2 separate regions of the Homo sapiens genome follow, and region 2 is linked to region 1. The links come from fine-mapping of genetic effects on gene expression. A gene starts in region 1. The other region holds a variant in brackets. All regions are shown on one strand. Distances are between the middles of the regions. Region 1 holds the start of TESC (tescalcin). Region 2 overlaps TESC (tescalcin).

What was found.
Region 2: its variant is fine-mapped to the expression of TESC in blood mononuclear cells (TOPMed, PIP 0.95).

Annotation. Positions count from the first base shown.
Region 1 is chr12:117,097,891-117,100,645 of GRCh38, forward strand. It overlaps TESC (tescalcin), which reads right to left and starts at 1,526. Exons shown (of 8, transcript NM_017899.4): 1 at 1,335-1,526. The coding sequence starts at 1,392. TESC-AS1 (TESC antisense RNA 1) reads left to right here and starts at 1,577. Exons shown (of 3, transcript NR_120464.1): 1 at 1,577-1,754; 2 at 2,563-2,750. RefSeq lists silencers at 922-1,021, 1,092-1,201, 1,262-1,781, 1,520-1,658, 2,525-2,742.
Region 2 is chr12:117,060,762-117,063,772 of GRCh38, forward strand. All of the region lies in intron 2 of TESC (tescalcin), which reads right to left. Among named protein-coding and RNA genes, the nearest start is that of TESC, 37 kb to the right of the region's middle. RefSeq lists enhancers at 1,652-2,428, 2,429-3,011. The variant T/C (reference allele first, on the strand shown) is at 1,703.

The DNA of each region.
Region 1 (2,755 bases):
CCTTTTTTAAAAAACAGAAAAAAGGGTACCATATTATATATGCTGAGCCACACCTTTTACTTCTTTAGTTGGATATTTCTATATCTCTACACACACAGAGATACAGATATAGACGTATAAGTGCGTGCATACACACACCAGTTATTAATGGTTTTCTGCAATTTTCATCCAGTTCTCCTGGAAAGGGGTATTTAGATTGGGGGTCAAGAGGGGTTGCTTTTCAGCTGACACACAAACAGCTGGGCCACCCTCTCTTGGTGATCAATACTGGACGCTGGTTCTCTGCACTTGAAGCAGGTGCCAGGAGCTAGCTCTTTCCCAAAATATCTGCAGCTCCCATTTCCTGAGCGTCTACCAGGTACTAGGAGAACTCTTACAACAGAGAAGGAAAGCTGAGAATCAGAGAGGTAAAGTGACTAGCCCAAGGTCACACAGCCAGGAAGTGCAGCTGGCAGGGTTCACAGCCGGTCTGTCGCTCGCCAAAGCCGGTTTGCCCACACACCTGGCCCCCGCGGTCTCCAGTCCACACCCTGGTCCACAGCCAGAGGCAGAACTGGCCATGCCGAGTTCAGGACCCAGGGCCAAGTCCCCAGCCCGGCTGAACTCGGGCAGAGAAGCGCTTTCTCCGCCATTTCCCTGCGGGCAGCTCGGCCAGGCCTCCCAGGGCTCCCCGCCTCCGGGCCGATGCGGGGCGCGCAGCCTTTGCTGGTCCCGGGAGACTCAGCGAACTCAGGGGAGGACGCTGGGCTCCGGGCAAAGTGCTCTGCGGCCGCTGCCTCGCTAAGTCTCCCAGCCACCCGCGGGGATGAGGCTGCCTGAACCCATTTTACAGATGCGAGGACGAAAGCAGGCGCCGGGCGCCGGCTCTCCCGACTAAGGTCACCCGGCCGGGGAGCGTCGGAGACCTGTTCCCACCCAGGTCCGCCGACTTCAAAACTTTCCGCTCTCGCGCTCACGAATGCAAACGACTCTCAGGTGTGGGGCGCGCGCGCCAGCGGGGGTGCCTGAGGGACTTGCCCGCCCGGCCTGAGGCACCTGCCCTGCGCTTGGGAAGCCTGGGCCCCGCTCCCTCCCCGGTCCGCAGTCCCCCGGCCAGGGAGTTCCCGGGCCAGTCCGAAGCTGAGCGGCTGCGGCACTGAGCATCGCCGCGGAGCTCCTCGCCGCAGCCCGCGAGGTGGCCAGCGGGGACCCATTTGAAAGAGGAGGAGACTGAGGCGCAGAGAGGGCCCGCCACTGGCCCAAGGTCACACAGCGCGGCGGCGGGCCGGGGTCCCCAACAGTGGCCGTTCGGAGGTCCCGCCCCGGTCCCCGCGCCGCCCCCCGCGGGTACTCACAGCCGGTCTTGCCCTCGAGCTCCCGCACCTCCTCAGACGCGGAGTGGGCAGCGCCCATGGTGCCCGCGGCGGGGGCCCCGGGGCGCGCGTCCCTCTCAGGCCCCGCACTGGCTTCGGCTGCGCAGCGGCGGGACTGGCCTCGGGTCCGGCCTCGGGTCGGGACGCCGGCGAAGGCTCGGAGCCGCGGGTTCCGCGTGGGGCCGGAGCGGGGCCTCATATAACGGCGGAGGGCGGCGCGCCGCGGTCCTAGCGCACGCCGGTTTCGCGCACTGCGCGGCTAGGGGAGCGCCCCGCCCCGCCCCGGCCCGGAAACCGCCGGGAAGGGGACCCCGGAGCCCACCGCTCTGGAGTCCCCGTTCGTGCAGCAGTGCTCACGTACCTCGTCCCTTCCGCACACCTGCTGGATCTGGAAGGAAGCAGGTGTGAGCAAATTTGGGGGCGTGGGTAGGAGGGGTGGGACCCCTGGGAGGTGCTATGCCCACTCCCAACCCATCCCACCTTACATCCTCCAGATCTTAGGAGGGAAACTCCACTGAGATAGTCAAGGAAGTCAGCGAGCATGAAATAGCTCTATGGAGAACAACAGTAATAATAATCCTATTTGAAAATGCACCATGCGCTTTGGTTTTTTCCAGGAAAGCCCCAGCACCTTCTGAGGTGAACACACCCACGTGGCGGCCCGTGTGGGCCCTGCACAGCCCGGTGGCTGAGAGGCACCTCAAACTGCAGGAGCGGGCTGGGCGCATGGCTCACGCCTGTAATCCCAGCACTTTGGGAGGCCAAGGCGGGCGGATCACTTGAGCTCATGAGTTCGAGACCAGCCTGGCCAACATGGTGAAACCCCGTCTCTACTAAAAACACAAAAATTAGCCAGGCGCGGTGGCACATGCCTGTAATCCCAGCTACTCCGGAGGCTGAGGCAGGAGAATCACTTGCACCTGGGAGGCAGAGGTTGCAGTGAGCTGAGATCTTGCCACTGCACTCCAGCCTGGGCGACAGAGCAAGACTCTGTCTCAAAAAACAAACAAACAAAAAAACAACTGCAGAAGTGGGCCCAGGAGGCTGCATTTGGGACAAACTGCTGGAGAGAAGGCAATGCCGGTGGTCCCCATGCCCATTAGGGAAGTTCTGGGTTAAGATGGCTTGAGGGGTTGGCTCTCCATCCAGTTGGGGTGACTGGGGCCGATGCTGTTGCCTGTGTAATGTGATTCCTCCTCCTTAAAATAAGGATAAGTTAATGAGATGTCCACCAGAGGGCCTGGCGTGGACACAGCACATGGCCACAGAGGCTGGTGGGCGCTATGGAATCTTGTCCCCTGGAGAGGCACACAGCCAGGGCAGAACATCAAGGTCAAGGCTCTCCTGAAGGCTCTGCAGTGCTTAGTGACACCACCATCAATGACCGTCAGGTATCAGGTCTG
Region 2 (3,011 bases), 37 kb before region 1:
CAGATACCCTGCTGCCCGACTCTCCCTGGCCATCCGAATAGAATCCATTTTCCAAGGCCCAGATCCCTGAGAAAGGGACCACGTGGAGCTCCAGAGGGAATCTGGGAGAACAGAGAAGCCGCTGGCTGCTATGCTGCTAGCCAAACCCTCTCTGGCTTTCACTGGCTGTTGCTAATCCTTCCTGAGTCTGTTTTCTCGTCTGTGAGGAGGGCACACTGATACTGACAGAGGGTGAAGGGCACAGCCTCTGGAATCACACTTGGGCTCTACCCTACTCTGCTACCTGGGTCAAACGGCGTTGCCTCACCCAGCCTCTGTCTACTCCTTTGCAAACAGGAACCTCACAGGGTTGCCGTACAGTTTAGAGGAGATAAAGTCTGCAACATGCTCAGCACGGTGTCTGGTGAACTGGGAGTGCACCACAGATGGCACCTTGCAGGATGGGGACCCTGTGATGTCCACAGCACCCCGTCCTCAGTGCCTTGCACTGCTGGGCTTGGCAAGGTGGTCAATAAATGGTTTGCTGAGCGAATAATGAAGCGAATAATGAAGATGGCTGCACGCAGGGCTTCCCTCTTTGTCTGGCCCATCCTGAGGCACTGCCCTTCCCCAGGTGCCTTCCCCAGGGCCCAGGTGTCCAGACCCTGGAAGGAGAGCAGACCCCAATGTCCCAGGAGAGAGGGAGGAGAGGTGGGGGAGAAACCACCTAGAAGAGCCTGACCCATGTGCCTGGAGAAGAAATTAACTCAACACAAGAGGCCTGTCCCCAACCAGCAGCAACAAGACATGCTTGACCTGCTAGGAATTGAGCTGGGGACACAGTGTCCCCAGGTGCTGGCTTCACAACCCCCAGTGGGTGTGTAAATGGCTCTGAAGCCCGCTGCCTCTGCTCTCTCTCTCTCTCTCCATAGGCACCTGCTACATCCACACCTGACTCTCACCTCCCCCTCACCACTGGTGCCTGACTCTTGGAGCCTCAGTTTCCTCATCTGTGAGATGGGTGCAGACCTAATCCTTCCCATATCAAAGGGGATGGTTCAGGGTCAAACACAAGGTGGGGAGAGGGGTGCTGGCCCAGGCTCTGCCCCTTACCAGGCACATGGTCTTGAGTAATCACAGCATGTCTTCAAGCCGTGATTTCTCATATGTAAAATGGGGATCATAGGAATATCCAGGTAACATGATGGGGCTAATGAGATGATCAAATGAGATAAATCCACATAAGATGCTGAGTAGGCTGCCTGACACAGGATGAGCTCTTAATTTTAAAATAATAACAGTAATAACGGCAGCAGCAGTAACAGTAATCGCTGCAGCAGTATTAATAGTAGTAATAATAATAATGTAACAGCAGCTAACCTACGTACCCTCAAAATGGAAGGAACTATTCTAAGAGCTTTACATTATTACATAGGGTTCACAACAACCCTATAAAGTAGGTACTTATGCCCATTTTATTTTCTTAATTTTTTTTTTTTGAGACGGAGTCTCACTCTGCCGCCCAGGCTGGAGCACAGTGGCGTGATCTCTGCTCACTGCAACCTCCACCTCCTGGGTTCAAGTGATTCTTGTACCTCAGCCACCCGAGTAGCTGGGATTACAGGTACCTGCCACCATGCCCAGCTAATTTTTGTATTTTTAGTAGAGATGGGGTTTCACCATGTTGGCCAGGCTGGTCTCGAACTCGTGACCTCAGGTGATC[T/C]GCCCTCCTCAGCCTCCCAAAGTGCTGGGATTACAGGTGTGAGCCACTGCACCCGGCCTGTGCCCATTTTAAAGATGAGGAAACTGAGGCAGAGAGATGAAGCCACTTCTCATTGTTAAGAATGATACTGGCGGACCCAGGCAGTGGCATGGTGGTTGGTGCCTGGCCTTCAGGGACTTTCCCTAAAACCTGCCAATGTCCCTTTTCAACAAGGAGAGCACCGGCCTTGAGTCCAGCGCTTAGGACAGGCTAACCTTTTCATTTCATCAGTTTCATGCTCCATCAATACTCGTGTCAGTTTTGTTTTCCTTCCTCCCTAGGTCCCCGCCGGGCTGGATGAACCGGCTTTTCTAAAGGTGTCGCAGCCCAGGCTGCAGCCATGGGAACAGGCTCTGCCTCACCTCAGAGCCCAGGGCTGACGGCAGGTCACTGCCCTCAGCCAGAGCTGATTCTCATGGCCAGTGGTGTTGCCCCAGTGACCATCAGGGGTAGCGGGGATTGCCCAGGAGGGCTCCAGGGCCACACACCTTCCAGGCCTCCTGCGGGAGAGCTTGAGCCCTCGGGGCTTCAGAATGTCCCCCTGGAGTCATGAAGGGCTCGCGTGACATCAAGCTGTGCTAAGCACTGCAACACTTAATCACCCCCACATAATCATGAGTGGCAACAATGATGATCCTATTTTACAGACCAGAACACAAGGCCCAGAGAGGCAAAGAGACTAAGCCCCAGTCACACAGCTAGAGTTGGCGCGGGACTCCAGCTCTGCCTCCAGGCTGGCTCGAACCATCTTGCGCTTCCTCACTCTCACCACTTCCTTCCTTCCAGTTGCGCATTTTTACGTTAAAGAGAGAAAGAGCGAGGCATCTGCTCTCACCCAGCCCCCAGCCCTCAGCCCAAGAGGCCCCATCTGGGACCCAGGAAGAGGGCAGGACAAGCGTCAGGCCAACAAGAAGGGAAGGACCAGGCTCAAAAAACCACCGAGGACTGTGCTGGGCTCTTCCTCAAGCCTCGTGGTGTGGGTTGGTTTCCGGTGGCTTTCGGAGCCCAGCTCAGTTGCAAAGTTCTCTCTAGGGGTACTGAGCATGGAGCTCCCCAACCCCCACCAACCACCACAAGGCTAACCGACCTCCAAGGTGAGGGTGCAGCCAGGCCCCAGATTCTCAGGCCGGAACTTCCACCGCTCCAGGGCTCCCTGCACTGAGGGAGGCCACTTTGCCGGGCTGCCTGCCCAATGTCCCTCTGAGTTCCCCTTCCTGCACTGCCTGCCCAGTGCCCCTCTGATTCCCCTTCCTGCACTCACTGTTCAGCA